Homo sapiens: one gene and its partners. The protein of the gene in region 2 purifies or fractionates together with the protein of the main gene of each other region. This does not show direct contact. Each region holds a gene or a part of one and is shown on either strand. Other genes may lie near its edges. The genes, in order: NAPA, SCFD1, SEC22B, SNAP29, RINT1, DKKL1 and BNIP1.

Region 1 (4,428 bases), on a different chromosome or scaffold from region 2:
AGCTGGGCAGCAGGGAAGGGAGAAGATGAGTTAGTAACAAGAGGGTCCTCAGAGCTACTGGCCTAGCAGCTGAGGGGACTTGGGGATGTCGGGTGATATTGAGTCAGCTCTTGCACCCCTCCCCCAGCCTCAGGTGTCACCTGGCTCTGTGTCTGTCAGTACCTTCCCGTAGCTGAGCTCAGCACCAGCCTGGCTGCAGAGATGGCTGCAGGGAGAGGTGGGTGGAGGGGGAAGGTTCCCCAGATAGGCACCCACTGCCTCCTCCCACCTGGCTCAGCTGGGGCAGGGGACAAATGAGCACATCCTCCATGCCAGGCCTGGGGCTGGTGCTTCTTGAGGACCCTGAGAGGGTCAAATGACGGTGAGCCCCCTTTTCAAAGTGAGGAAACAGATCCAGAGAGGGGCAGTGACCTGCCCAGGGCACGGTGAGACATGGGGTGGGAATGGGAACCTGGTCTGACAAAGCCCAAGCTTTTGCCCACCACCGGTGCCCACAGCAGGGCAGGGCTCTGTGGGGTGTGTGTGTGTGGGGTGTGTGGGGCCACCACCCCAGGCCGTGAGCCAGGGACACCAGGAAATCCTGGACTCCGTGCTTCTGCCAGGCAATGGTAAAAAAACTCCGGCCAAGCAAAATCTAGCGCCAACCCTCCAGCTCCTTCCCGCTGGCCACGCCCCCTCCCACTGCCCTCTTTGGCCCCTCTTTTGCCAAGTGTCCTGAAAATAGGTGGGCATGTGTGAGCTACAGCTAAAGCCACGACAGCAGGAGTCACAAAGATCTGGAACACTGGGGCTGCAGGTCCCTAGTCATGTGGCCTCAAACAAGGGACTCTCGTCCCAGCCTCACCATCTTCACCCATAAGACGCGGTGACAATGGTGCTGACTTTAATGGGGTGCAGTGAGGATTCAAAAAGTGCACCCATGAAGGAAAGAGCACTAAGTGAGGCAGGAGCTGGACCCGCAAAAGCCTCCAGGGCTGGGTGGGCAGGTGATGCCAGCACAGAAACACAGCTGTGAGAACCACACTTCTCATCCAAAGGCTGGCTGGCAGGGGCCAGACGTGAGGGAGGAGCACGTCCCTCTTCGGGGGCAACGGGACCTGGCCTGGAGATAAGCACATGGTGGCCTGGTGCGGTGGTCCTGCGGGCGTGGGGTGTGCTACCTTGGCGTTGAGCATGTCGATGCAGAAGTGGCAGAGGGCCGCCTTGAAGAAGTAGTCTTTGGCGCTGTACTTGAGGAGGGGGCTGTCCATGGCATTGGTCCCCACCTGTAGCCATGGAGAAGTGGCACTGGTGAGCTCAGGGCAAGCAGCCAGAGGGCCAGAGCCACTGCCAGGCACTGGGGGGCCAGCTGGGAGCTGGTTCATGTCCCGAGGTGAGGCCCTGTTAACCCAGGACCCCAAGGGCAGGGAGCCAGGGACCAGCTTGGAGAGGTCAGCGGCCAGTGCGTGAGCGACCAAGATCAGGGTGTGATGGTGGCTGGGTGGGGGTGGAGGCTGTAGCCAGGTGTTCGTGGGCCTTCTGAGAGCCTGAGACAGTGGGAAGGAGGCAGCCTGGCTGTCAGGACCAACGGGAGGCTGGCATGGCGGTGGGCAGAGCGGCGGCAGGCGGTGGGAACATGAGAGGCGGCGCCCGCCCCTCTCTCCCAGGGGGCCAGCTGCCTGCCTTTTTCTCGGCCATCACCCAGGGCTCCGTGCACGCTGGGGGGACCCCATGTGACACTCCCTCCCTCCCACTGTGGATGAGGACCATCGGGCCATGGGGTGGGGTGCCCACGGCCACCCTGGGCCTCTTGGCACTTCTTCCCATTCCCTCCCTCTGGGTTCTTTAGCCAGCCTCACTCTGGGCCCCTCCAGGAAGCTCTGCGAGGGGTGTGGGAGGGGCACAGCCAGGGAGAGAGACGGTGCTGGCACGGCATGGAGTCGTAGGTGGAGAACATTCAGCCAGGCTGAAGACAGGGTGGGGGGATGACATGGCAAGGGATGTCGGGGGAGAGGCAGAGGGTGAGCCGGGGGAGGGGTGGTTCCAGAACAAGGTGCCGGGGCTTAGGAGGAGGCACAGGCCCTGAGAGGGGGCAGGGTGGAAGCCGCCATCCCCACCTGTCCCCACCTGTTCGTAGATGTCAATGGCCTTCTGATACTGCTCCAGCAGCGCAGCGTAACCAGCCACCTTCAGCAGACACTTGTTGGCTGAGCTGTGTGGGGAGGAGTAGTGAGGGGAAGTGGTGGCGGTCCCTGCGGGGCTGGGGCAGGCAGGAAGGGGGCTACCTGTTGGACTCCTCGCCTTTGTAGTAGTCTGCAGACTGCTCGTAGTGGGCAATGGCCTGGGGAGACACGGGGGATGGGTTCCAGGGGAGGGCAGGGAAGGGAGAGGAGGCCTCCGTGAAGCTTCCACACCCTCCGCCCTGCCTGCCTGGGACACAGCCAGACCCCATTCTCCAAGCTCTGCCGGCGCCCCATGCCCCCTTCTCGGCACTCAGACACCAGAGGACTCCCCTGGTGGGAAGAAGAGAGAGCAGCACTGGTCCTGGCTGCCAGCCCATGCAGGGCCCTGCTGCCACTCACCTTCTCGATGTCCACCAACTCTGTCTCATAGATCTCAGCAATGGAGATGTGGTGCTTGGCCGCAATCGTGAATCGGCCCTGGAGGGGACACAGGAAGGGGCTGCCTGCGACTCATGACCTCCTGCGTGCCTGCCTGCTGACCTATGACCCTTCAAGTTCCCACCCCTCAGCCACGCCTGTGAGGAGGTATGAAGAAGACCTGAGGTGTGAAGAAGATCGAGAGGTGGGGGAACACAGGAGTGAGAAGGGAGGGCCCCAGCACTAGAGGCCTGGCTATGCGTGCTGGGCTGAGCGGGTGATGTTGGACAAGCCACTCCAGGGCCTTAGCCTAATTCCATCCCATCCACGAGGGCACAGATGGTGTGACACCAGAGAGAATGTGAGCACGAGCACTTGGCCAAGGCCCTGGCCCTTAGGAAGCCTCTGATAACAGCCAGAGAGGCGGAAGGACCAGTCCAGAGCCACTTGGCAAAGGGCTCTGGAGAAACCAGGATGGGAGGGAGGGCTTGAGACCTCTGCCCAAGAGTACCAGCTCTGCCCCCAGGCCAACACCTATCTGTCAGCCTCCCCCAGGCACACCCAGAGCTCCCCAGGGAGGCCTCAGGTTCCAAGGGGCCTCGCACCTTCCATCCGCCTCCACCCAGTGTCCAGGCGCTTGCCTAACTGCTCTGCACCAGGGGCTGGTCCAACGCCACCCCCTTGCTGAGGGCAGTAGGAAAGGGCAAGGCCCTGGGCTCAGCCAGACCTTGTTTCGGGTCTCAGTGACTCCTGCTTGTAGCCACATGTCCCTGGGCAAATCATGTCACTTGTCTGAGCCCCTCTCCTCCACTAAGGAACGGGGATGACAATAATGCCAACCTCACAGGGCTGTGGATTAAACCACCCTGCAGTGTCTGGCCTAATAAATGGCAGCTGCTATTATTGTTCTAATCACAGTCATCCCTGCAGCACTGCCCTGAACGCAAGGGGTAGGGCTCGTGTCCCTGCCTGGGGTTGGAGGGCTGAGACAGACAGGGCAAGCGGAGAGGCAAAAAGGAGCTGGCCAGGCACGGTGGCTCATGCCTGCAATCCCAGCACTTTGGGAGGCCAAGGCAGGTGGATCACTTGAGGTCAGGAGTCTGAGACCAGCCTGGCCAACATGGTGAAACCACATCTCTACTGAAAATACAAAAATTAGCCAGGCATGGTAGCACACGCCTGTAATCCCAGCTACTCGAGAGGCTAGGGCACGAGAATCGCTTGAACCTGGGAGGCAGAGGTTGCAGTGAGTGGAGATCACGCCACTGAACTCCAGCCTAGATGAGAGAGAAACTCTGTCTCAAAAAAAAAAAAAAAAAAAAAAAGAGAGAGAGAGAAAGCACTGACAGGAGCCCCGGCCTGGGTGGGACCCTTCACTCTGGCTCCAGTTGGCAGCTGCCCATCTGGTCTGCATCTGTCGTTGGCAACGCGCCCTGGGGGCAGGGCAGGTGCTGAGCCTCCTGTGGGCTCTGCCTATCCCTGTGGCCTGCTGCAAGATGCTTATCAAATGTGACACTTGCGGGAAGGCTGGGCAAGGGGAAGTGCCGGACACACACTCTCCAGTAACCTAATTTCTTTTTTTGTTTTGAGACAGGGTCTTGTTTTGTCGCCTACGCTGGAGTGCAGTGGTGTGATCACAGCTCACTGCAGCCTCAACTTCCTGGACTCAAGCGATTTTCCTGCCTCAACCTCCCAAGAACTAGGACCCCAGGTGCATGCCACTACACCAGGCTAATTTGTTGTAGAGAGGAGGTCTTGCTATGTTGCCCAGGCTGGTCTCGAACTCCTGTGCCCAAAAGATCCTCCCACCTCAGCCTCCCAACATGCCAGGATTACAGGCATGAGCCAC
Region 2 (3,944 bases):
TCAATAATATTTTGTAGTCTTCAGAGTATATTTTTATGCTGTTACGAAAGGCATTTTTTTTTTTTAAGTTCTAGGGTGCGTGTGCACAACGTGCAGGTTTGTTACATGTGTATAAATGTGCCATGTTGGTGTGCTGCGCCCATTAACTCATCGTTTACGTTAGGTATATCTCCTAATGCTTTCTCTCCCCGCTTCCCTTACCCCACTACAGGTCCCGGTGTGTGATGTTCCCCTTCCTGTGTCCAAGTGTTCTCATTGTTCATTTCCCACCTATGAGTGAGAACATGCAGTGTTTGGTTTTTTGTTCTTGCTATAGTTTGCTGGGAATGATGGTTTCCAGCTTCATCTATGTCCCTACAAATGACATGAACTCATCCTTTTTTATGGCTGCATAGTATTCCATGGTGTATATGTGCCACATTTTCTTAATCCAGTCTATCATTGATGGACATTTGGGTTGGTTCCAAGTCTTTGCTGTTGTGAATAGTGCCGCAATAAACATACCTGTGCATGTGTCTTTATAGCAGCATGATTTATAATCCTTTGGGTATATACCCAGTAATGGGATGGCTGGGTCAAATGGTATTTCTAGTTCTACATCCTTGAGGAATCGCCACACTGTCTTCCCCAATGGTTGAACTAGTTTACAGTCCCACCAACAGTGTAAAAGTGTTCCTATTTCTCCACATCCTCTCCAGCACCTGTTGTTCCCTGACTTTTTAATGATTGCCATTCTAACTGGTGTGAGATGTATCTCATTGTGGTTTTGATTTGCATTTCTCTGATGGCCAGTGATGATGAGCACTTTTTCATGTGTCTGTTGGCTGCATAAATGTCTTCTTTTTAGAAGTATCTGTTCATATCCTTCGCCCACTTTTTGATGGGGTTGCTTTTTTCTTGTAAAGTTGAGTTCTTTGTAGATTCTGGATATTAGCCCTTTGTCAGATGAGTAGATTGCAAAAATTTTCTCCCATTCTTTAGGTTGCCTGTTCACTCTGATGGTAGTTTCTTTTGCTGTGCAGAAGCTCCTTAGTTTAGTTAGATCCCATTTGTCAATTTTGGCTTTTGTTGCCATTGCTTTTGGTGTTTTAGACATGAAGTCCTTGCCCATGTCTATGTCCTGAATGGTATTGCCTAGGTTTTCTTCTAGGGTTTTTATGGTTTTAGGTCTAACATTTAAGTCTTTAATCCATCTTGAATTAATTTTTGTATAGGGTGTAAGGAAGGGATCCAGTTTCAGCTTTCTACATATGGCTAGCCAGTTTTCCCAGCACCATTTATTAAATAGGGAACCCATTCCCCATTTCTTGTTTTTGTCAGGTTTGTCAAAGATCAGATGGTTGTAGATGTGTGGTATTATATCTGAGGGCTCTGTTCTGTTCCACTGGTCTATATCTCTGTTTTGGTACCAGTACCATGCTGTTTTGGTTACTGTAGCCTTGTAGTATAGTTTGAAGTCAGGTAGTGTGATGCCTCCAGCTTTGTTCTTTTTGCTTAGGATTGACTTGGCAATGCAGGCTCTTTTTTGGTTCCATATGAACTTTAAAGTAGTTTTTTCCAATTCTGTGAAGAAAGTCATTGGTAGCTTGATGGGGATGGCATTGAATCTATAAATTACCTTGGGCAGTATGGCCATTTTCAGGATAATTGATTCTTCCTATCCATGGGCATGGAATGTTCTTCCATTTGTTTGTGTCCTCTTTTACTTCGTTGAGCAGTGGTTTGTAGTTCTCCTTGAAGAGGTCCTTCACATCCCTTGTAAGTTGGATTCCTAGGTATTTTATTCTCTTTGAAGCAATTGTGAATGGGAGTTCACTCATGATTTGGCTCTCTGTTTGTCTATTATTGATGTTTGGGAATGCTTGTGATTTTTGCACATTGATTTTTGTATCCTGAGACTTTGCTGAAGTTGCTTATCTGCTTAAGGAGATTTTGGGCTGAGATAATGGGGTTTTCTAGATATACAATCATGTCATCTGCAAACAGGGACAATTTGACTTCCTCTTTTCCTAATTGAATACCCTGTATTTCTTTCTCCTGCCTGATTGCCCTGGCCAGAACTTCCAACACTATGTTGAATAGGAGAGGTGAGAGAGGGCATCCCTGTCTTGTGCCAGTTTTCAAAGGGAATGCTTCCAGTTTTTGCCCATTCAGTATGATATTGGCTGTGGGCTTGTCATAAATAGCTCTTATTATTTTGAGATACGTCCCATCAATACCTAATTCATTGAGAGTTTTTAGCATGAAGGGCTGTTGAATTTTGTCAAAGACAAAAGGCATTTTCTTAAGTTCATTTTTGGATTCCTCATTCCAAGTGCATAAAAATCCAACCGATTTTTATGTTGATCTTACGTTTCACAGCCTTGCTGAGTTTATTAGTTCCAATTGTTTTTAATGGATTTTTAGAAGTTTCTATATACAAGATCATGTTATCTATTAATAGAGATAGTTTTGCTTCTTTTCTATCTTCTGCAACTGCCCTGGCTAGAACCTTCAGTACATTGTTGAATAGAAGAGGCAAGAGCAGACATCCTTGTCTTCTTTCTCATCATACGGGCAAAGCATCTAGTCTTTGACCATTATATATTTTATTACATTATTCATAGATGCCCTTTAGATCCATTAAATTTTTAGTAGCTACTAAGCTCCCCAGTTTATTGTCCTGAGAGGATTTTTAAATCCCTTTTAGTTTTTTTGTCCTGAATAATCCTAATCTTTTCCCTACCATTCAGCCCTATTAAGAAGGAACTGAGCTAGGTCTATGACAGCCTTCCTCACATCATTAGAAACCTGTGTCAGTACAGTCTCGTAGTATGAAACTAAACATGCGACTATGCCTACATGAGACTGGCAATACAGAATTAACTAACATGGCCCTTGGTTTATACTAGTCCACAACATAAGGGGCAAGTGCCAGAAAATACTGCTGTAATTCTGATTTATTTAGTAATGTTGTTAATCTAACTCACAATGTAAATGCTATTTGGTATAACTTTGGTATAATTGGTAAAAAATAATTTGACTGATTTTATCAAAACATTTGATAATACTAATATTGATGAATTGGGAACTTGACTTAAAACCACAAGGTATTCTCTTGATGGAAGGTGATTGGTTAGAGAAAGAACTACACTGAGTTAATTTTACATTGAATCAATATACTGGTACATTTTATAAAGTTCGATTTTTTTTTCTTTTTTTTTTTTTGAGACAGAGTCTCATTCTCTCACCCAGGCTGGAGTGCAGTGGCGCAGTCTTGGCTCACTGCAACCTCTGCCTCCCGAGTTCAATCAATCAGTTCTCCTGCCTTAGCCTCCTGGGTAGCTGGGATTACAGGCATGCGCCACCACACCTGGCTAATTTTTGTATTTTTAGTAGAGATGGGGTTTCACCATGCTGGCCAGGCTGGTCTCGAACTCCTGACCTTGTGATCCACTTGCCTCGGCCTCCCAAAGTGCTGAGATTACAGGCATGAGCCACTGCGCCCAGCCCATAAAGTTCAATTTTTAACTGACAGAGTAAGTAAAGGGGTCATCAAGCTTGTACATGATTAAGAACAAGTTTGCACTGGAATGTTTGGTAAACTACAGTGTTTCTTTAAAATTACACCTACACTTCATTGGATGGCTAAAAACGATTAGAAAAGAATGATGATGAGTAATTTGGTTAAGAAAGCTTGGTCCAGGGTGGGGACTGTACAAGTCAGGATTAATCTCAACTGGGCTACTGTACCCCTGTGCTTATCTCCAAGAATACCAGGATCCATGGTGCTGATGTTTAGCCAAACCTGAATGAAGTATTAACTAGTGATGAATTCTGGGCCTGGGCTAGAGACTACGATAAACCAGGGGGCAACCTTGGGCTGGCTTGCCAGCATTGTTTAATAGAAAATGTAAAGATTGATTTTACATTTTTCACCTGGTTTCTGTCATGTTCCCTTGGTT
Region 3 (4,428 bases), on a different chromosome or scaffold from region 2:
AAACTGATGGTATAGAAGATGGTGTAGACTAAAAGCAAAGAGACCAGTTAACTCAGGTGCCCAAGCAAGGAATAAGACAGCTGTATTATTAATATTATTTTAAGGGGCCTGAGAGATCATATAATAGTCTTTATCCTTTATGGAGCCCTAGGATGCCTCAGGAGCCACATAGAAAGGGCAAGGATGGGAGTATATATAATGCTTTGGGCCCCTAAACTCCTCCTTATGTTTTAAATTTTTCCCTTTTATTTTCAGTTGACATGTAATAATTATACATATTTATGGGATACAGAGTGATATTTCAATACATGTATACAATGTGTAATCAAATCAGAGTAATTAGCATATTCATCACCTCAAACATTTATCATTTCTTTGTGTTGTGAACATTCAAAATCTTGTAGCTTTTTGAAAATACGTGGTAAGTTATAGCTAGCCATATTCACCCTACAGTTCTGCAGAACACCAGAACTCATTCTTCCTATCCAGTTGTAATTTTTTATCCATTAACTTGCCTCTGCCCATCCTCCCCTTCTCTCTACCTTTCCCTACTTCTAATACCCACAATTCTACTCTCTACTTCCATGAGCTCAAAAATTTTTTTTGGCTCCTACATATGAATGAGAACATGCCATATTTATCTTTCTGTGCATGACTGATTTTATTTAACTTAATGTCCTCCAGATTTATCCATGTTGCTGCTAATGATAGAAATTCATTCTTTTTTATGGCTGAATAGTATTCCATGGTGTGTGTGTGTGTGTGTGTGTGTGTGTGTGTGTAAAAAACACTTTTAAAATCCATTATTCTCTTGATGGACATTTCTCTTGATTATCTATCCATAGATATTATGAATGGTGCTGCCGTAAACATGGGGGTACAGATAAGTTTTTAACATAATGAGTTTTTTTCCTTTGGAGAAATACCCAGCAGTGGGATTGCTAGATTGTATGGTAGTTCTGTTTTTAGTTTTTTGAGAAACCTCCATACTGTTTTCTATAGTGTATAAAAGTTCTCTTTTCTCTTCATCCTCAACAGCATTTATTGACTTTTGTCTTTTTAATAGACATTTTAACTGGGGTGAAATAATATGTCGTTGTGGTTTTTATTTACATTTACCTGAAGATTAGTGATGTTGAGCATTTTTTCATATACTTGGCCATTCGCATGTCTTTTGAGAAATGTCAATTCTGTTCCTTGCCTACTTTTTAATTGAATTATTTTTGGTTTTGCTGTTGAGTTGTTTGAGTTCCTCGTATGTTCTGGATATTAGTTCCTCATCAGATGAATGAAACTAGATCCCTATCTCATCATATACAAAAATCAACTTAAAGTAGATTAAAGACTTAAGCATAAGACCCTAAACTATAAAACTACTAGAAGAAAACATAGGGGAAATGTTTCAGGACATGAACCTGGGCGAAGACTTTATGGCAAAGACTTCAAAGCACAGGCAACAGAAAAGAAAGTAGACAAATGGGACTGTATTAAACTAAAAGCTTCTGCACAGCAAAGGAAACAACACAGTGAAGAGACAACTTGCACAATGGGAGAAAATATTTGCAAACTCCTACTTAAACTAAAGAACCTCTGATTTTATCTGATATATACATTGGCCTTCTGAATATGTTTTGCTTGTTATATATACATATTCCATATATAAATATATATATTTGCATGTGTGTGTATGTATACTATGGCTAAAAAGAAGTTGGAAAACCACTTAGTAGCCTAACATTTTTCTAAGAATTTCTCAGATGTGTAATCATACAGCCCCTTCCAGAGTGCATGGGCGCTCATCATCACAAAAGAAAGTCAGTTCCATTGTTGATAAGTTTCCAGTTGATTACAGAGTTCTCCTGGACTGTAAATTAAGGAGTCTTATTAGTCTTGTACCCAGTAAACATTATGTCATTAACCTTACATTTCTATCCACAGAAATTTCCAGTTACAGTGTTTTCCTTTGTGGCTGGAAAGAGTTTAAATATGTGTATGCTAGTTTACCATATAGAATCAAAGGGTGGATGGAGTCACAACTCTGAATTTTTCAAGAAAAAGTCTTAAGTATTAAGCAAAAAACAACCCCATTTAAAAAATGGACAAAAGACATGAGCAGATATTTCTCAAAACATACTAGAGGCTAGCAAACTAATGAAAAAATGCACATCACTAATTATTGGAGAAATGCAAATCAAAACCACAATAAGATACCATCTCACAACAGTCACAGGGCTATTATTAAAAAGTCAAAAAACAACAGATGCTGATGAGGCTGTGGAGAAAAAGGAATTGCTTATACACTGTTCGTGGGAATGTAAATTCAGCCACTGTGGAAAGCAGTTTAGAGATTTTTCAAAGAACTTAAAACAGAACTACCATTAGACCCAGCAAACCCATTAATGGGTTTATATCCAAAAGGAAACAAATCTTTCTACCAAAAATCATGCACTTGCATATTCATTGCAGCACTATTCACAATAGCAAAGATATCAACCTAGGTACATGTTAGTGGTGGATTGGATAAAGAAAATGTAGTATATATACAGTATGGAATACTATGCAGTCATAAAAAGAAATGAAATCATGTCCTTTGCAGCAACATGGATGGAGCTGGAAGTCATTACCTAAGTGAATTAATGCAGGAACAGAAAACTAAATACTGTATATTCTCATTTATAAGTTTATAAGCTAAACATTGGGCACTCATGGACATAAATATACTGAGGACTTACTAGAAGAGGAGGGAAGGAGGGGGCAGGGGTTGAAAAACTATTAGGTAGTATGCTTAGTACTTGGGTGACGGGATTGTTTGTACCCCAAACCTCGGCATTATGCAATATACCCAGGTAACAAACCCGCACATATACATCCTCAAGCTAAAATAAAAGTTTAAAATGTTAGTTGAAGAATTGTGTAATGGGCTGGGTCCAGTGGCTTACACCTGTAATCTCAGCACTTTGGGAGACTGAATTGGGTGGATCGATTGAGGTCACGAGTTTCAGACCAGCCTGGCCAAAATGGTGAAACCCCATCTCTACTAAAAATACAAAAATTAGCTGGGTGTGGTGGTGGGTGTCTGTAATCCCAGCTATTTGTGAAGCTGAGGTGTGAGAATCACCTGAACCTGGGAGGTGGAGATTGCTGTAACTGAGATCATGCCACTGCATTCCAGCCTGGGTAATCTGGGTGATGGAAAGAGCCCTGTCTCCAAAAAAAAAAAAAAAAAAAAAAAAGAGAATCTAATGGATGAAAAATTATAATAAATATGTCTAAATACTCCTTTTAGAATATACGGCTAATAGGCTGGGTGCAGTGGCTCACGCCTGTAATCCCAGCACTTTGGGAGGCTGAGGCGGGCGGATCACGAGGTCAAGATATCAAGACCATCCTGGCCAACCAACGTGGTGAAACCCCGTCTCTACTAAAAATACAAAAATTAGCTGGGCATAGTGGCGCACGCCTGTAGTCCCAGCTGCTCGGGAGGCTGAGGCAGGAGAATGGCTTGAACCCGGGAGGCGGAGGTTGCAGTGAGCCGAGATAATGCCACTGCACTCCAGCCCAGGGGACAGAGCGAGACTCCGTCTCAAAAAAAAAAAGAAAAAAAAAAGAATATACATCTAATAATGGGAAGATGTTTGCTTTCTGATTCCAAGGATTTGCGGTTTTAAATTGACTCTCGTTTAGCCAGCCTCAAAGTATTTAGGCTAGATTTTTTAAAAAGTTTGCATGGTACAGAGATTCTGCTTTAAACTGTTGTCAGTGCTATTACTTTACAGATAACTTTGTCTTGCTTTTTATGTCTCACCAGCTACATTATTGAGCAGGGGGTGTGTTATTTGGTTTTATGTGAAGCTGCCTTCCCTAAGAAGTTGGCTTTTGCCTACCTAGAAGATTTGCACTCAGAATTTGATGAACAGCATGGAAAGAAGGTGCCCACTGTGTCCCGACCCTATTCCTTTATTGAATTTGGTAAGTTTTTGCCCCTCACTTCTCTCTATCAAGGGAGCAAACAATATGGAGAAGCTATTTGTTACACTGATATAATATTTATACATTTTTTCTGATGTTTACTTGCTGAAGTTTTAGCTTCTGCATCCTTTTCCATTCCACTTCTTTTTGTCTTTTTGAGTGACTAAGGCTTTGTTCTGAAAAGTAATTTTCTCTAGTCTTTTGATCTTTCCCCCATAGAAATTGTTGCCTTTTGCCCTTTCTGTTATTTGGTTTGATTCTTCTTTAGAGTCACATGTGACAGGAACTGTGCCTAAAGATCTACTTGATTGGCATATAATGGCTGAGTTCTTCTTTACCCCAGTCCACAGACTCACACTCACAATAAGGCTCATTTTATGGAGATCAGAATTGGGAAATCAGAAAGAATGATGTTTTGTTTCTTTTAGTAGAATAAGATCCTCTAATTAAAAAAACAAA
Region 4 (4,428 bases), on a different chromosome or scaffold from region 2:
TCTCTGTTCATGTATCCCTCATTGATCCACCTCCCTGTGGTTTTTTTTTTTTTTTTTTGAGACAGATTCTCGCTCTGTCACCAGACTGGAGTGCAGTGGCACCAACTTGGCTCACTACAGCCTCCGCCTCCTGGGTTCAAGTGATTCTCCTGCCTCAGCCTCCTGAGTAGCTGGGACTAAGGCGTGCACTACCACACCCAGCTAATTTTGGTATTAATAGAGTTGGGGTTTTGCCATGTTGGCCAGGATGGTCTCGATCTCTTGACCTCGTGATCCACCACCTCGGCCTCCCAAAGTCCTGGGATTATAGGCGTGAGCCACTGCACCTAGCCCACCTCCCTGTGTTTAACTGTTGGTTTTTTATTTTTGTTTTGTTTGAGACAAAGTCTTACTCTGTCACCCAGGCTGGAGTGCGATGGTGTGATCTCGGCTCACTGCAACCTCCACCTCCCCAGTTCAAATGATTCTCCTGCCTCAACCTCCCAAGTAGCTGGGATTAGAGGCACCTGCTACAACACCTGGCTAATTTTTTTGTTTTTGTTTTTGTTTTTGTTTTTTTGGTGTTTTTTGTTTTTGAGACGGAGTCTTGCTCTGTCTCCCAGGCTAGAGTTCAGTGGCGCGATCTCAGCTCACTGCTACCTCTGCCTCCCAGGTCAAGCGATTCTCCTGCCTCAACCTCCTGAGTAGCTGGGCTTACAGGCACCCGCCGCCATGCCCAGCTAATTTTTGTATTTTTAGTAGAGACGGGGTTTCACTGTGTTGGTCCGGCTGGTCTTGAACTCCTGACCTCATGATCCACCTGCCTTGGCCTCCCAAAGTGTTGGGATTACAGGCGTGAGCGACCACACCTGGCCTCTGATTTTTGTATTTTTAGTAGAGACAGGTTTCGCCATGTTGGGCAGGCTGGTCTCAAACGCCTGACCTTAGGTGATCTGCCCACCTCAGCCTCCCAAAGTGCTGGGATTACAGATGTGAGCCACTGCGCCCGGTCCTAACCTTGTTAGGGAGGTTTTGCCTGTAGTTCTTACATCTCATACCTACTGGATTCCTATGTTCCATTCTAAATGGGAAGTCTTGGCTTAGATTTGAGAGGATTGCCTGAGGTTTTAGGGCCCTGGTGAATGGGTCACATGATTGAGGATCTCAAGCCCAAGGAATTCAACTAACAACTATTTAAGGAGACATCTTTGTAAACTGAGAACAAATGAAGTAGGGAATCAATGATTCAAAGTAGGGCATTGTGGCAGAGGATAAACTTGAATCTAGCTTTTAAGGCTGAGGTTTACACAAGAGGAGTGAGAATGAGGGATGTTCTTAGGGAAGACAGGAAAATATGCAAATGCACTGGCCCAGCAACAGAGCTCCTGGGTCCAGAGGAGGGACATGATAGACTGGGTGTGTTAGAGGACAGGGGATGGAGGAGGTAGCTTAGGAGCCCTTGGAGGTCATAGGGAAAGTTCTGGTCTCATAGCGCAGGAGAGGCAAAAATGTAATAGTGGTGAGTTTGATATAGATTGTGATGACATGCCCCGTGCTGCCCCCAAAGGTCTTTCTATGCAGTGGGGACAGTGAGAGCTGAGGCAGAGTGGCACTTCAGGCATATCAGGCTTGGCCAGGCCAGGCATTGCTGTGAGAAGTACAGTGTGGTCATGACTGGGCAGGTGACAGGTGCTCTTGTCAGTGAGACAACATGTTGGAATTTTCCAGGATTGGGTCAGTTCTCAATTATGAGAAGCCCTGGGAGTCAGGGATGACCTACATCTCCACCACACCCAGTGTTCTCCAAGCTGTCTTTGTTTTTGTGTTTTGTTTTGGGGGAGGTTTTTTGAGATGGGGGTCTCACTCTGTCAACCAGGCTAGAGTGCCGTGGTGCAATCTTGGCTCACTGCAGCCTCTGCCTCCAGGTGCAAGTGATCCTCCTGCCACAGCCTCCCAAGTAGCCAAGACTACAGGTGCACGCCACCACACTCGACTAATTTTTGGTATTTTTGGTGGAGATGGGCTTTCGCCATGTTACCCAGGCTAGTCTCGAATTCCTGAGCTCAGATGATCTGCACACCTTGGCCTCCCAGTGCTGGATTACAGGCTCCAAGCTGTCTTTGAATCACTCTAATCACTCTTTCATTCCCTTTGGTGTTGGGATGGGAACAGAGGAGTATGAGCTCTTCCAACCCTCAGTGCACAGTGTGGCTTCCAGCAAATTCCAGCATACCCTGCTAATCACCCAACTTAGGTGCCTGGTTACCCCAGCACTGTGAAACATGCCAACACATGACAGATTTATGTCAAAGATGAGGACTTTACAAATTATATTAGGTTGGGAAGATTATAATTCAGTCCCAGCTTGGCAGGAAAATGGCTTAGTTAAGTCACCTCTAGCAAAGAGAGCTGCCCTTCTCCTACTGTGAAACCTGGCAAGGATTGTTTCTCACAAAGGCTCAGGCCACAGGCTATGACCACAAAAGAACAGAGGAGAAGTAGTGGGAGCAGGGCGGTTTCCCCAGGCCGACCTGGTAGGCGCTTTGTAGAACTACAGGGAGACTTGTAAGCCACTCGTCTCTTTCCCTGTTTAGTAAGCATGATTTCTTCTTTTTTTTTTCCTAAGGTTTAATTTTTATGAAGAGAGATTCCAATCACATGGTTCAAAATTTCAAAACATACAAAAGGGTGTAGTCTTCTCCCACTTCCCTCCCTATCATCCCTCTGCCCCTAAGGCAGCCAGGCACTTTCCCTCCTTCAGTGTTTTGGGGAGATAATGCCGTGGATAAAAATGGGTTTTTTTTTTTAAGTGAAGTATTGTATACATTCTGGTCTGCATGTGCTTAATAGAATGGAGTTTGTTCCACACTAGTATGTAATGAGCTGGGCTTTCTTTTTGGCTGTGTTGTATTCCATTGAACAAATGACTTCTATTTATGCAGCCTGTCCCCTAATGATGAGCATTGAGGTTGTTTACACCTTTTGGTGAGTCTATTTGCATCCTACTTGGACATGGTTTTTGTACACCTTTTCATCACTCCAGTGGAGGAGACTCACCTGCCCAGGACACTCTGCTTCCCCTCTTGTAGCTGAACTTAACTCCACTGAGGTTTTCTGGGGCCCGAGATCTCGGTTCAGGGGAGTCCAGCAACAAACATTAGACCAGGGTTGGAACGGCTGGCACAGTAACATCAATGGAAAGGGACAGAGTTTGAGAGTTCAAACGTGATGCACTCAGCAGCCACCGCCAGCACATCCTCCACACCGTCTCGTGCAGGGGCCCACCCATCTCTGTGTCTTTCCAGCACACAACAGTCACCCACACTGGGCATTCCATTCAGAGGTGGGAGAGAGGAGGACACCCCTCCTGGCCCAGGAGCAGAGGCCATCAAGGTGTCCCCGGAACTTAGAGTAGATACATTGCCAAAAGGTGATATCCTCATTCTCAGGGATTCTGGTCTTGGAGCAGCCCACTCCAAATGAGGGGCCGTACAGACCAAAGTCACCCCTCTGAGGCAGCGTGTGGTGATACTGATGCAGCCAGAGTTCTTAGCAAAAGTTGATGGATGGGGACAAGCAGCTGCTAGATTAAGTAATTCCTCAAATTTGTAAATGTCAGCAGTGGAAGAGGAGCAGTCTCTTACCCATCTCTTGCTCAACTTTCTACCCCCACGCTTCTCAGCACAATGTCCTTAAGCGTTATTGGCGCTCCCAAAATAGTTGCCAAATGAATAAGTGACCTGGGGAAGGAAAGGAAGGAGGGAGGGAACAGAAGATTGCCTGAAAAAGGAGGAGAGAGTTGGGTGGAAAGAATGCATTGAGCTGTGTGCCTTGGTTGCAATGCCTGTCCTGTGACCAGAAAATGCATCCCAACACATGTCAGGCTGTGTCTAGCAGGTGGGAGGGAGTCTGGTGGAGAAATGGCATTGGACCACATACTCACCGCTAGGTCTGTTCGGGATTTATTTTTAATTAATTTTTGGTAAACTATCAATGATTGAATTTGACCATTGATGGCCAGGTGTGGTGGCTCACACCTGTAATCCTAGCACTTGGGGAGGCTGAGGCAGGTGGATCCCTTGAACCCAGGAGTTCAAGATCAGCCTGGGGAATGTGGTAAAACCCTGGCTCTACAAAAAATACAAAAATTACCTGGGCATGGCGGTGCATGCCTGTAGTTCCAGCTACTCAGAAGGCTGAGGTAGGAGGATCTCTTGAACCAGGGAGGTCAAGGCTGCAGTGAGCTGAGGTCATGCCACTGTATTCCAGCCTGGGTGACAAAGTGAGACCCTGTCTCAAAAAAAAAAAAGAATTAGACCATTGATCCCAGGCCAATTTGCTGGCTTGTTGGCTGTAACAGGATGCCTTCTGAGGATGGGCTGGTTGTTCGAGCTTCTGGCTTCTCCTTCCTGGGCACATCCACTCACAGCTGCCACATTGTCCCAAGGA
Region 5 (4,428 bases), on a different chromosome or scaffold from region 2:
GTATGTGTATATGTATGTATGCATATATTTTTTATTTTATTTTTATTTTTTTGTTTCACTTATTGTTTTCAACACAAAGGCATACTTCTTCCTGCTATTTGTGTGTATATAAAACAGCATGTTATGTTTGGATTGATTAGTACAGGATGAAGAAATCAAACCTTTTTTTGAAGGTTTTGATGGATGATTTTCAGTTCTGTTACAAAAAATGTGTATTTTGAAGGGAACGAACTAATAAAAAAGGTTACATACAGCCTGGGCAACATAGTGAGACCTTATTTCTATTTAAAGAAAAAAAAAAAAGAAAAGCCAGGTGTAGTGGTGCATATGTGTAGTCCCAACTACTGGGGAGGTTGAGGTGGGAGGATTGGTTGAGCCCAGGAAGTCCAGGCTGCAGTGAGCTATGATGGTACCACTGCACTCCAGCCTGGGCAACAGCGTGAGATCCCCTCTCAAAAAAAAAATTATGAAAATTTTATCTGATTGCTGCTGTTCTTTCTTTCTTTCTTTTTTAAAATTATGGTCAGGTACTTACAATTTCATCAGAAATTCCTAAAAGAATTCGAAGTGCCTTAAAAAATGCAGAAGAATCAAAGCAATTTCTTAATCAGTTTCTGGAGCAGGAAACTCATCTCTTCAGCGCCATTAACAGCCATTTGCTGACTGCGCAACCTTGGATGGACGATCTTGGAACCATGATTAGCCAGATTGAAGAGATCGAACGTCATCTTGCTTACCTTAAATGGATTTCACAAATTGAAGAACTAAGGTAAAATGGGCCTCTTTGTTCTCACAATTACTATTTTCCTTTGAGGCTTCTGTCTTAGAGAGTACATGTGTGCCATTAAATAATTGAGTTAATTAAAGATTATAATAATATAATTTTACCAGTTGTTGTGAAAATAGCATTATGATAATGATTCTTTTCCTTTATTGTGAGTGAACATAAGCTTTTCAGGGAGCTTAATTAGCATTTGAAAGAAGGTAATGTAAGTACGTTAAACTTTTAAGTTTTTTTTTTTTGAGATGGAGTCTCGCTCTGTCGCCCAGCTGGAGTGCAGTGGTGCCATCTCGGCTCACTGCAAGCTACACCTCCCGGGTTCATGCCATTCTCCTGCCTCAGCCTCCCGAGTAGCTGGGACTACAGGCGCCCGCCACCATGCCTGGCTAATTTTTTTTTTTGGTATTTTTAGTAGAGACGGGGTTTCACCATGTTAGCCAGGATGGTCTCGATCTCTTGACCTCACTGTCCGCCAGCCTCGGCCGCTGGAAGTGCTGGGATTACAGGCATGAGCTACCGCGTCCGGCCAAACTTTTAAGTCTTACAGTTGGATTATGAACACATGATAAAAACTATTCTTTGTAATGCCAAATTAATAAAACACAAAGTTTGGTAATAGTTATTCTTATTTAATTTTTAGAACTGGTCAGTTAATGAAATGGATTGCTTTTGTATAATTTGAATATTTTTCAGTGGGAATCATAAGAGCTACACAGTATTCTTGGATGAATAACAAGAGTTCTGCTACCTCTGGGTAGGAAAAACAAAAAAGGAAGTAAGGCTTGACCTTAGTTCTTTTTGAGTTGAATACCTATCACTGGTAGTTAATTGTATCTAGCTTTGCCTTTCAGACAACCCAAAGTAACATTTCCACCTAGATTAGTAGATGATAAGGTCCCCACTATCCTTGCATTGTTTTAACTAGTACTTGCTGCAGAGCTGTCAGCAACCATTAATTTTGCCTGGAAAACCTGAGGGAGAAAAGTCTTCTGGGAGTCTTAATGTCCTGTTTCAAATGTATCATAGTTAATAAACCTGATATTACTTTTGTTATGGATATGTTTTATGTATTTCTTTTTCTTGCATATATTTCCCAAAATTTTAAAGAATTTTACATATCAATATAATATAGAAATCTTTGTTTTTAGGCCAGGTGCAGTGGCTCACACCTGTAATCCCAGCACTTTGGGAGGCCGAGGCGGGCAGATCACGAGGTCAGGAGTTTGAGACCAGCCTGACCAACATGGTGAAACCCCGTCTCTACTAAAAATACAAAAAAAAAAAAGAAATTAGCCAGGCATGGTGGCGCGTGCCTGTAATCCCAGCTACTTGGGAGGCTGAGGCAGGGGAATTGCTTGGACTCGGGAGGCAGAGGTTGCAGTGAGCTGAGGTTGTGCCATTGCACTGCAGCCTAGGCAGCAAGAGCGAAACTCCGTCTCAAAAAAAAAACAAAAAAAACAAAAAAACTTTGTTTTGCATGTATGAGGAGTTTTACATATAAAGTGGTTTAGAACATCTCATTCTTGTTTAGATAAATTATTTGCAGTGAAGGAATTTTAAACCTTGCTTTATTTTACTGCATTTCTCCTTGTCCCTCAGAAAGGAAATATCAGTAAGGGGCAATGTTAATAACTTTATTAAGTAAAATACGTTATTTGAAAACCTCACTCTTGTAGTAGCCAAAGTAATAGATTAACTAAATTAGGTCCATGGTTATTGATAAACTTTTCTTTTTTCTTCTTTTTTTTAACATTTATTTTATTTATTTTAATTTTCTTTTTATTTTTTTTTGAGTTGGAATCTTCCTCTGTTGCCCAGGCTGGAGTGCAGTGGCACAATCTCAGCTCACTGCAACCTCCACCTCCCGGGTTCAAGCGATTCTCCTGCCTTGGCCTCCCGAGTAGCTAGGACTACAGGTGTATGCCACCACGCCCAGCTAATTTTTGTATTTTTAGTAGAGATAGGGTTTCACTATGTTGGCTAGGCTGGTCTTGAACTCCTGACCTCAAGTCATCTGCCTGCCTTGGCCTCCCAAAGTGCTGGGATTACAGGTGTGAGCCACTGCACCTGGCCTTGATAAACTCTTCAGATATCTGAATTGTTTATAAGGGAAATATGCCGAGGGATTTATATTAGAAATAGGGATCAAATTCATAAGCAGGTAGAGCACAGTTATTTTTCTGTCTTTAATAATGTGTTATTTCCCTGAGGTCTTTTATGATAATCTCTCCATTTCCAGCTTTCCTTTAGAGCTTCTGGGATTTTCTTCATCTCTAAATTTTTTTATAATGGCCTATTTTTATTCTGATGTACATTGTCTTTTTTTCAAGTAGTTTCTTCTTGCTAGAATTAGCATCCTTACATTAGCTCTGTTTCTTGGATACTATAGTATAGCACTATCACTCTGAGTGAACCTTGTTTCTCTAGCTTTTCCTATGTTGTAAATGTCATTCATACTTTAGTGTTGTGAGGAAATCTATTTCATTCCTTCCTTAAAAGCAGTACTCCTGCCGGGCATGGTGGCTCATGCCGTAGTCCTAGCACTTTGAGAGGCTGAGGTGGGCAGATCGCTTGAGCTCTGAATTCTGTGACCAGTCTGGGCAACATGGCAAAACCCCATCTCTGTTTAAAAAAAAAAAAATCAGCCAGGCTTGGTGGTGAGCACCCATAGTCCCAGCTACTCGGGAGGCTGAGGTAGGAGGATCGCTTGAGCCCCGAGAGGTTAAGATTGCAATGAGCCGTGATTGTACCACTGCACTGCAGCCTAGGTGACAGAGTGAGACTCTTTTAAAAAAAAAAAAAAGGCAGTACTCATATTCTGTTTGTACATTTGAAATTCTTCTGTAATATTTGTATATATATATATATATTTTTTTTTTTTTGAGATGGAGTCTTACTCTGTTGCTGAGGCTGGAGTGCAGCGGCACCCTGTCAGCTCACTGCAACCTCTGTCTTCTGGGTTCAAGCAATTCTCCTGCCTCAGCCTCCTGAGTAGCTGGGATTACAGGTGCCCATGACCACGCCTGGCTAGTTTTTATATTTTTAGTAGAGACGGGAAGGGTTTCACCAAGTTGGCCAGGCTGGTCTCGAACTCCTGACCTCCGGTGATCCACCCATGTTGGCCTCCCAAAGAGGCCACCACGCCTGGCCTCTTTTTCTTTGAGACGGAGTCTCACTCTGTTGCCAGGCTAGAGTGCAGTGGCATGATCTTGGCTCACTGCAACCTCCGCCTCCCGGGTTCAAGCAGTTCTCCTGCCTCAGCCTCCCGAGTAGCTGGGATTACAGGTGCCCACCACCATGCCTGGCTAGTTTTTATATTTTTAGTAGAGATGGGGGATGGGGAAGGGGGGGCGGGGGGCGTTTCACCAAGTTGGCCAGGCTGGTCTCAAACTCCTGACCTCCGGAGATCCACCCATGTTGGCCTCCCAAAGTGCTGGGATTACAGGGTTGAGCCACCAAGCCCCGCCTGGAATTATATTTCTTTGAAGTGGGAAATCAAGTTCAGCTGGGCAAAGTATGTAACAATTGAAGACCATCATACTTGACTTTACCAGATACTACCACATTATTCCCTTGGATTAAGATACTGAAGACTTTGTAAAAGGCAGATTTATCAGAAATGAGTGGTGCCCAAAGGAATATGACAC
Region 6 (4,428 bases), on a different chromosome or scaffold from region 2:
AGGAGACTCCACTGTCCATGGCGAATCCATGGTCTGCCAGCGCAGTTTTAGAGAGAGAATGTGCCACCGCAGGTGTCATCCTCATGTGCACCCTGGCAGGTAGCCATCTGAAGATTTCAAGGACAACCTGGCAGGGGAGCAGACCAGCGACACTTCCTCTGAACAGGTTCTTGCTGTTCACTTGACAGACTCAGCAACTCAGGCAAGTGTTCACATGGAAGATATCCTGGAAGGATACCAAGCCAGTGAAAGCTCAGATGAAAATGCCCCATGGCTTTGGAAGGCCAATGAATGTGCCAAGGAAAAAGGTGCCATGGAGGATCCTCTGGAAGACCTCGCCAATGAAATTTCAGATTAGGACACCCCACTGGATTTGAAGGCCAAAGAACGTGCCAAGGAAAAAGTTCCCATGGAGGATACCCTGGTGGAAGACCTTGGAAACGAAAGCTCAGATAAGGATGCCTCACTGGACTTGAAGGTTGACAAACGCATGAAAGAAAAAGTTCCCACAGAGGATACCCTGGTGAAAGACCTTGCCAATGAAAGCTCAGATGAGGACGCTCTACTGGATTGAAGGCTGATGAATTCACCAAGGAAAAGTTCCCACGGAGGATACCCTGGTGGAAGACCTTGCCAACAAAAGCTCAGATGGGGATGTTTTGCTAAATTTAAAGGCTGACAAATGAGCCAAGGAAAAAGTTCCCATGGAGGATACCCTGGTGGAAGACCTCACCAACGAAAGCTCACATGAGGATGCTCCACTGGATCTGAATGCCGACAAATGTGCCAAGGAAAAAGTTCCCATAGATAATCCAGTGAAAGAATTTGCCAACAACATCAAGGAAAAGGAGGCCCCATGTAATGTGAAGGCACCCTAGGGAGTCCAGGTAAATGATTTCAAGGATGACCTGGCGGGGATGGTGATCAGTGAAAAGTCCCCAGAAGCAGCCCTATCTCTTCACAGGGCAAAATGAGATGCCAAGAAAAAAGATTGCTTCGCCATTCTTGTAGCAGAGCTTCCTGAAGAGATGTCCTCAGGGCAAGTGCTGGCCGTTGTCACCGTGAAAGGCATCAAGAAAAATGGTGGCTCTGAGGACAGCTTTTCTAAAACCAGTAATGACAAAGACTCTTCCTGTAGTGGAGACACTCAAGCTTCTGGAGCAGATATGGAAGAGTCCAATCATGCAGATGACCATCAGCATATGCCAACAAGTACTCTCCCAGCACCTGCAGAAAAAACAATAGAGACAAAGCCTGAAAAGGCAGAAGAAATGTAACCCAGTGAGTTCAAGGAGGATGAGGATGCTGAAGAGCCTGACCTGACCTGTTGTGACCTTTGTTTTTTATGCTAGAAGTCCCTACAGATTTTTTGAACACCTGGAAGGGCCGGGTCACAAGACCTCACCCTGGCCCAGCAACCATCTGGACCGTGAGAGTTTTGGGGATTTTGCTACTCTCTCTGGACTTTTACATTCTCTTAATTTTTTAAAAAATATTCTTTCTTTAACCTGTTTTAAGATGCAAGCTGTCATTGCGTCATCATAGTTACATTTTATTACTCAAATAATTTTTCAATTGTTTTACTAGTTTTTTTTGGATCTTTGTCCACTGGTTTTAGAGTTTTTGTAATTTTGATAAATGATCTTTTATGCTTTGTATCATTTTCTTAATGACTTACCTTAGTTTTTAACAAATCCATGGTACAGTAAGTTATATTAAGACATAGTATTTTTATGTTTTTTTAAATTATACTTTGGGTTCTGGGGTACATGTGCAGACATGCAGTTTTGTTGCATAGGTGCATGTACCATGGTGGTTTGCTGTACCCATCAGCCCGTCACCTGCATTGGGTGTTTCTCCTGATGCTATCCCTCCCCTGACCCCCCACCCCCCACCGACAGGTCCTGGTGTGTGATGTTTCCCTTCCTGTGTCCATGTGTTCTCATTGTTCAGCTCCCACTTGAGTGATAACATGCAGTATTTTGTTTTCTACTCTTGTGTTGGTTTGCTGAGAATGATGGTTTCCAGCTTCATCCATGTCCCTGCAAAGGACATTAACTCATCCTTTTCTGTGGCCGAATAGTATTCCATGGTGTATATGTGCCATGTTTTCTTTATCTAGTCTATCACTGATGGACAATTGGGTTGGTTCCAATTCTTTGCTATTGTGAATAGTGCCATAATAAACATGCATGTGCCTGTGTCTTTATGGTAAAAAAAAATAGTATAATAAATATCCCTATAGTCTCTTTTCCATAAACCAAAATTTCTTAAGGTTGGCATCATTGGCATGTGGGGCTGGATAATCTTTATTGTGGGAGCTGCCCTGTGCACTGTAGGATATTTGATAACATCCCTGGGCTCTATCCACTAGAGAGAAGTTGCCTCCTGCCAGGCACAGTGGCTCATACCCGTAGTCCCAGCACTTTGGGAGGCAGAGACGGGCGGATCATGAGGTCAGGAGTTCGAGACCAGCCTGGCTAACGTAGCGAAACCCCGTCTACTAAAAATACAAAATATGGGGCCAGGCACAGTGGCTCACACCTGTAATCCCAGCACTTTGGGAGACCGAGGCAGGCAGATCATGAGATCAGGATATCAAGACCATCCTGGCTAATGCGGTGAAATCCCGTCTCTAGTAAAAATACAAAAAAATTAGCCAGGCATGGTGGCAGGCGCCTGTAGTCCCAGCTACTCAGAAGGCTGAGGCAGGAGAATGGCGTGAACCCGGGAGGTGGAGCTTGCAGTGAGCCGAGATCGTGCCACTGCACTCCAGCCTGGGCGACAGAGCGAGACTCCGTCTCAAAAAAAAAAAAAAAATACAAAGTATGGCCAGGAGTGGTGGCTTACACCTATAATCCCAGCACTTTGGGAGGCCGAGGCGGGCAGATCACCTGAGGTCAGGAGTTCGAGACCACCCTGACCAACATGGAGAAACCCCGTCTCTACTAAAAATACAAAATTAGCCGGGCATGGTGGCACATGTCTGTAATCCCAGCTACTCAGGAGGCTGAAGCAGGAAAATCGTTTGAACCCAGAAGGTGGAGGTCGCGGTGAGCGAAGATAGCACCATTGCACTACAGCCTGGGCAACAAGAGCGAAACTCCATCTCAAAAAATAAATAAATAAATAGGCTGGGCATGGTGGCTCACGCCTGTAATCCCAGCACTTTGGGAGGCCAAGGCAGGTGGATCACCTGAGGTCAGGAGGTTGAGACCAACCTGGCCAACATGGTGAAACCCCGTCTCTACTAAAAATGCAAAAATTAGCTGGCATGGTGCCATGCCCCTGTAATCCCAGCTACTCTGGAGGCTGTGGTGGGAGAATCGCTTGAACCCAGGAGGCAGAGGCTGCAGTGAGCCGAGATTGTGCCACTGCACTCCAGCCTGGGCTACAGAGTGAGACTCCATCTCAAAAAAAAAAAAAAAAGAACACAGTCATGTTGGATTAGGGCCCAACCTAATGACCTCATCTTCACCAATTATATCTTCAATGACCCTAGTTCCAAATAAGGCCACATTCTGAGGTATTACAGGTTAGAATTTCAAAATATGAATTTGGGGAGGAAACAATATGGTTGTTTGTTCGTTTGTTTTTTAAGCCTGGGTCTTGCTCTGTTGCCCAGGCTAGAGTGCAATGGCACAATCTTGACTCACTGCAGCCTCTGCCTCCCAGGTTCAAGTGATTCTCCTGCCTTAGCCTCCCAAGTAGCTGGGATTACATGAGCGCGCCAGCACGCCCAGCTAATTTTCATATTTTTAGTAGAGACAGGATTTTGTCATGCTGTCCAGGATGGTCTCAAACTCCTGACCTCAAGTGATCTGCCCACCTCAGCCTCGCAAAGTGCTGGATTACACACATGAGCCACCGCGTCCAGCCAGGAGGAAACAATTTAACACATAACAATCTCCTGCGCGGCTTCTCAGACCTCATCTTACTAAAAGGCAGACTGATTCAGCAGGTCTGAGTGGGGTGGGACCTATTAATTTGCATACCTAACAACAGCAGCCCACCCTTTGAATTGCAAGGACCAAACAGACACTCAGTCCATATTCAAACTTTCTCCCTCAACTCAAAGCTGTCCTTGAAAGCTTTATTTTTTTTTTTTCCCTTGAGATGGAGTCTCGCTCTGTCACCCAGGCTGGAGTGCAGTGGTGCGATCTCGGCTCACTGCAAGCTCCGCCTCCTGGGTTCATGCCAATCTCCTGCCTCAGCCTCCCGAGTAGCTGGGACTACAGGCGCCCGCAACCATGCCCGGCTAAATTTTTTTGTATTTTTAGTAGAGACAGGGTTTCACCGTGTTAGCCAGGATGGTCTCGATCTCCTGACCTCGTGATCCGCCAGCCTCGGCCTCCCACAGTGCTGGGATTACAGGCATGAGCCACTGCACCTGGCCCCTTGAAAGCTTTTGATTCAGGATCAATGAAG
Region 7 (4,285 bases), on a different chromosome or scaffold from region 2:
GACCATCTGGTTTCCTCCAATAGTTTTCCCAGAGTGTCTCCTCTGTGATGGAGAAGAGTATCAGCCCTCTCCAGGGTCCTTCAGTATAAGACAACAGAAAAAGGGCGTTTACTCCTTGAAACGCTTTTGGAAAATTGCACACGTGGACAAAAGGAGAAAGCATGGTATCCTGAATCCCCTGAGCCCTGAGTCCATTACCCCAGCCAGTCTCGTTTCAGTTCTACCCTCAGCCCATCCCCCATCTGGATTATTTTGAAGCAAATCCCAGACATCATCCATAAATATCTCAGTACATCTCTCTAAAAGATAAGGGACTCTTTGGGGAAAAAGCAGAAGCAACCCCATAACTACAATACCATGATCACCCCTAGAAATTATAATTTTGGACCACTGTTTTTTCAGTGCACCAAATAGGCAGAAGCAAAAGGAAAGCAAGCAGGTGACCCCAAGGTCACTCCTTGAGTTTGCAGCTTACCTGAACATCTGGGCTCGGAACCAGCCAGGGGCTTCCTCTCAGCGTGTGCTGTGGGAGAGGCCTTGGAGAGAGAGGGAGCAAGGCGACAACTTGGCCTCTGAGCCCAGGGCTTTTATGCTCTGGTGTGGCGACAGCATACCCCCCGCTAACAGTGGGAAGGAAACACAAATGCTGGTGGCTTCTGGGGTGTTGAGAGGGTCCCGGTGTTCTTGGGGCCCATTTTGTACAAGCGATAACTATTGAAGAAAAGAGAAGAATACAGTTCTTAACCCTTTCCTTATGCCTCACAAATTCAGCTTGATTTAAAAGCCTACTAGGACCATAATTTTAAAACAAAAAGCTTATTAGGAATATGGTGTCTGGAATTTGCTCCACAATTGCAGGAGTAGTTGCAGTTGGGGGGAGGGGGAGCAGGATTTCAGAGGTTGGTGGTTCTTGGTTATGGGTGGTGGACACATGGCATTTCATGATATTATGCTGTCTGCTCTGTGATGGTTCAAAATTCTCCGTAATAATAAAGTTTAAAAAGAAAGGCCTATTAGATTTTTACTTAGCAAGATCTCAGGGTTTTGAAATCGCAGCAGGCAGGCGTGGAGAAAGCAGGCGGAGAGGGATTCCTGTTCTGTGAGTGTTTGTTTTTCTCCTTTTATCTGTCATTTTCAAAACGCTGCTGTGTTTCCTCTGATAATTTATCCTATTTACTTATTAGCTTTTAATTTTTAAAAAGGTAACACATACAGCATAGAGAAGGATAAGAAAACTCTAGCCCAGGACTGCCATAGAAACGCAACAGCAGCCACGTATGTAACTTTAAATTTTCCAGTAGGCACATGTTAAAAAGTAAAAAGAAACATAAGAAATTAATTTTAGTAAGATGTTTATTTAACCCATTATGTAAAATATTATAATTTCAATGTAAAACTAATATTAAAAACTATTGAGATATTTTACATTCCTTTTTCTTAGATTAAGTCTTTGAAACATCGTGTGGATTTTGGCCAGGCGCGGTGGCTCATGCCGGTAATCCCAGCACTTTGGGAGGCCAAGGCGGGCAGATCACTTGAGGTCAGGAGTTCGAGACCAGCCTGACCAACATGTTGAAACCCTGTCTCTACTAAAAATACAAAAAGAAAATTAGCTGGGCGTGGTGGTGCATGCCTGTAGTCCCAGCTACTGGGGAGGCTGAGGCAGGAGAATCATTTGAACCTGGGAGGTGGAGGTTGTGATGAGCCAAGATCACGCCACTGCACTCCAGCCTGGGTGACAGAGTGAGACTGCATCTCAAAAAAAAAAAGAAAAGAAACATTGTGTGGGTTTGACACTTACATCTCCTGACATCTCCATTTGCATTAGCCACGTTTTTCTATGCACAGCAGCCTCGCATGTCTAGGGGCTGCCATATTGGTCAGCACAGCTCTGGAGAGTACAAAAGGGACACAAAAAAGATCACTCTCTGTTCTGACCTCCAGCTGACCCCTACCTGCCAGCCCTCTGGTCCACTTCCCAGAGGCAACCTCTGTAACCAGTGTCTTAAAAAATATCTTGTGATCCTCCAAGCTTTTGTAACTTAAGCAAATGAAATACCATTTATCTCCCTGTTTCTTACCTAAATGGAAACATTTCACAGGCGTTCCTTTATACTTTCCCTTTTCACTTAATGTGTTCTATTCAATGGCTGTTCTGATGATGCCTTGCTATGTTTTGTGGGAGAACCTCGCCAGGTACACCTTCTACCCTCAGCGTCAGGCCCAGATACCCATATTCAGAAATACATCTGACTCTGGGGACAGTGATTCCTTAAGGGACGTGGGCCTCTTCTTAGGTGTCACCTCCTTAAAGCTACAGCCAGTATCCCTGGCCTGAGGGACTGGTATGTGTGAGGGCTTACGGCAGAGCCCGGGACACCCTTGCCCTTTTGAGATCCTGCAAAGTGCCGGTCTGGCCAGCAGATGTCCTGGAGGCCGCACCTCATAGGTGGAAGGTTCTGGTGCATTTGGCTGCTGCCCCAACACAGACCTCACAGTGCCTGCCCACGATCCCTGGGTTGATTTTGTGGCTGGTGGTTTCCCTGAGCAGCGTCCATCTGCTTCAGAGAGCTGAGGAGGTGGCTGGGTGAGCAAGCCTCTTCTGCCCTTCTCCCTGGTGACGCTCATGTTCAAGGACTCCCAGACAAACCCCCCCTCACTCTCTGGAGCTGATGGGACCTGGGGAGGAGCCTTTCCTTGTCAGCTCCTTGGCTGGTCTCCACATGCTTTGATTCCAGCTCAGAGGAACTCACTTGAGAATGCTGGTTTTTATCAGCACCCCAGCCAGCAGAGTGAGGTCTTTGGATCTTGAGCTGCAGTCTCTGAGTTGGGCCTCCTTCCTCTTTTGTTTCAGTCACTTCTTCACGAACGATCCTGGATGCAAATGAAGAATTTAAGTCCATGTCGGGCACCATCCAGCTGGGCCGGAAGCTTATCACAAAATACAATCGCCGGGAGCTGACGGACAAGCTTCTCATCTTCCTTGCGCTAGCCCTGTTTCTTGCTACGGTCCTCTATATTGTGAAAAAGCGGCTCTTTCCATTTTTGTGAGATCCCAAAGGTGCCAGTTCTGGCCCTTTCAGCTCCTGTTTCAGGATCTGTCCTGGTTCCTGAGCTCTAGGCTGCTAAGCTGAGCCACACACCCCTCCGTTTGCACCAGTTGCCTGCAGGTTGGATGGAACACAGTGCCCCACTTTTCTGCAAGTAGCTGGCTTGTAAAGGGTGAACAGAGCCATGGGAGGAAGGTCTGGCATTGGGATGCCGCCCTGGGGACATACGAACCGCCTCCTTCCACCATTGTGCACTATGGGAGGCCGCTGCTGCGTGGAGCACTTAAAGTCCAGCCTCCAGGACCGGATGCCCCTCCTGTCTCCCGCTCCCATCGTGCCCTTAAATGCCAGATCTGGTGGAGGGAAGAGAGAAGAGGTAGGAAGAAAGGTGATGAAAACTCCTGGTCATTCCTTGAATAAACTTGATTTTATTTAATAGAATAAAATGTATTTGATTTTGTAAGATAGCCCTCTGGGAATGTGTGTTCCTCTTTTCTTTTTTCTTTTTTTTTGAGATGGAGACTTGCTCTATCATCCAGGCAGGAGTGCAATGGCGCAATCTTGGCTCACTGCAGCCTCTGCCTCCTGGGTTCAAAAGATTCTCTTGCCTCAGCCTCCCAAGTAGCTAGGATTACAGGCACACACCACCATACCCAGCTAATTTTTGTATTTTTTTAGTAGAGATGGGGTTTCTCCATGTTGGCCAGGCTGCTGTCGAACACCTGACCTCAGGTGATCCACCCATCTTGGCCTCCCAAAGTGCTGGGATTACAGGTGTGAGCCACCATGCCCAGCCCTCTTTTCTTGATGTCCAGATTTTTAGGACATGAACCTAGATTATTTATTTATTCATTCATTCAACAACGAATTAGCATTGTTATTTTCTTTCTGTCCCCACCCAACAACAAGGAACTATTAAACAGCTGCCACACACAGGGTGTTATAGACGCTGCTGAACATGACAAATACATTGGTGAACCAGACATGGTTCCTCCCTCAAGGAGGAACAGAAGGAGACACGGAAATAAAATCTCACAGACTATCAGGAAGGAGGGTCCAACAGCCCCTGTTCAACCAGGTGTGGTGGCTGATACCTCTAATCCCAGCATTTTGGGAGGCTGAGGCAGGATGATCACTTGAGCCCAGGAGTTCAAGACCAGCTAGACAACATAGCAAGACCCTGTCTGTATTTAAAAAAAAAAAACAAAAAAACAGAAACAGAACAGAAAACAGCC

Evidence for each region.
Region 1: the proteins of SCFD1 (region 2) and NAPA purify together in Homo sapiens (affinity purification with mass spectrometry; 3 studies listed by BioGRID and IntAct, with this or other methods). This does not show direct contact.
Region 3: the proteins of SCFD1 (region 2) and SEC22B purify together in Homo sapiens (affinity purification with mass spectrometry; 3 studies listed by BioGRID and IntAct, with this or other methods). This does not show direct contact.
Region 4: the proteins of SCFD1 (region 2) and SNAP29 purify together in Homo sapiens (affinity purification with mass spectrometry; 2 studies listed by BioGRID and IntAct, with this or other methods). This does not show direct contact.
Region 5: the proteins of SCFD1 (region 2) and RINT1 purify together in Homo sapiens (affinity purification with mass spectrometry; 2 studies listed by BioGRID and IntAct, with this or other methods). This does not show direct contact.
Region 6: the proteins of SCFD1 (region 2) and DKKL1 purify together in Homo sapiens (affinity purification with western blotting, with the first as the bait; one study listed by BioGRID). This does not show direct contact.
Region 7: the proteins of SCFD1 (region 2) and BNIP1 purify together in Homo sapiens (affinity purification with mass spectrometry; 2 studies listed by BioGRID and IntAct, with this or other methods). This does not show direct contact.

The regions. Positions count from the first base shown.
Region 1 is NC_000019.10:47,490,855-47,495,282, forward strand, and holds part of NAPA (alpha-soluble NSF attachment protein), read right to left. Parts: intron 4,291-4,428; exon of another isoform or gene 4,174-4,290; intron 2,748-4,173; exon of another isoform or gene 2,640-2,747; coding exon 2,562-2,639; intron 2,321-2,561; coding exon 2,265-2,320; intron 2,192-2,264; coding exon 2,107-2,191; intron 1,266-2,106; coding exon 1,161-1,265; intron 3-1,160; coding exon 1-2. UniProt on the Homo sapiens protein: Required for vesicular transport between the endoplasmic reticulum and the Golgi apparatus. Together with GNA12 promotes CDH5 localization to plasma membrane.
Region 2 is NC_000014.9:30,729,817-30,733,760, forward strand, and holds part of SCFD1 (sec1 family domain-containing protein 1), read left to right. Parts: intron 1-3,944. UniProt on the Homo sapiens protein: Plays a role in SNARE-pin assembly and Golgi-to-ER retrograde transport via its interaction with COG4. Involved in vesicular transport between the endoplasmic reticulum and the Golgi.
Region 3 is NC_000001.11:120,162,751-120,167,178, reverse strand, and holds part of SEC22B (vesicle-trafficking protein SEC22b), read left to right. Parts: intron 1-3,808; coding exon 3,809-3,969; intron 3,970-4,428. UniProt on the Homo sapiens protein: SNARE involved in targeting and fusion of ER-derived transport vesicles with the Golgi complex as well as Golgi-derived retrograde transport vesicles with the ER.
Region 4 is NC_000022.11:20,861,079-20,865,506, forward strand, and holds part of SNAP29 (synaptosomal-associated protein 29), read left to right. Parts: intron 1-4,428. UniProt on the Homo sapiens protein: SNAREs, soluble N-ethylmaleimide-sensitive factor-attachment protein receptors, are essential proteins for fusion of cellular membranes.
Region 5 is NC_000007.14:105,541,881-105,546,308, forward strand, and holds part of RINT1 (RAD50-interacting protein 1), read left to right. Parts: intron 1-527; coding exon 528-769; intron 770-4,428. UniProt on the Homo sapiens protein: Involved in regulation of membrane traffic between the Golgi and the endoplasmic reticulum (ER); the function is proposed to depend on its association in the NRZ complex which is believed to play a role in SNARE assembly at the ER.
Region 6 is NC_000019.10:49,369,890-49,374,317, forward strand, and holds part of DKKL1 (dickkopf-like protein 1 isoform 1 precursor), read left to right. Parts: exon of another isoform or gene 1-1,254; intron 1,255-4,428. UniProt on the Homo sapiens protein: Involved in fertilization by facilitating sperm penetration of the zona pellucida. May promote spermatocyte apoptosis, thereby limiting sperm production. In adults, may reduce testosterone synthesis in Leydig cells.
Region 7 is NC_000005.10:173,160,871-173,165,155, forward strand, and holds the end of BNIP1 (vesicle transport protein SEC20), read left to right. Parts: intron 1-1,202; coding exon of another isoform or gene 1,203-1,275; intron 1,276-1,441; coding exon of another isoform or gene 1,442-1,454; exon of another isoform or gene 1,455-1,490; intron 1,491-2,854; coding exon 2,855-3,051; 3' UTR 3,052-3,517; downstream 3,518-4,285. UniProt on the Homo sapiens protein: As part of a SNARE complex may be involved in endoplasmic reticulum membranes fusion and be required for the maintenance of endoplasmic reticulum organization. Also plays a role in apoptosis.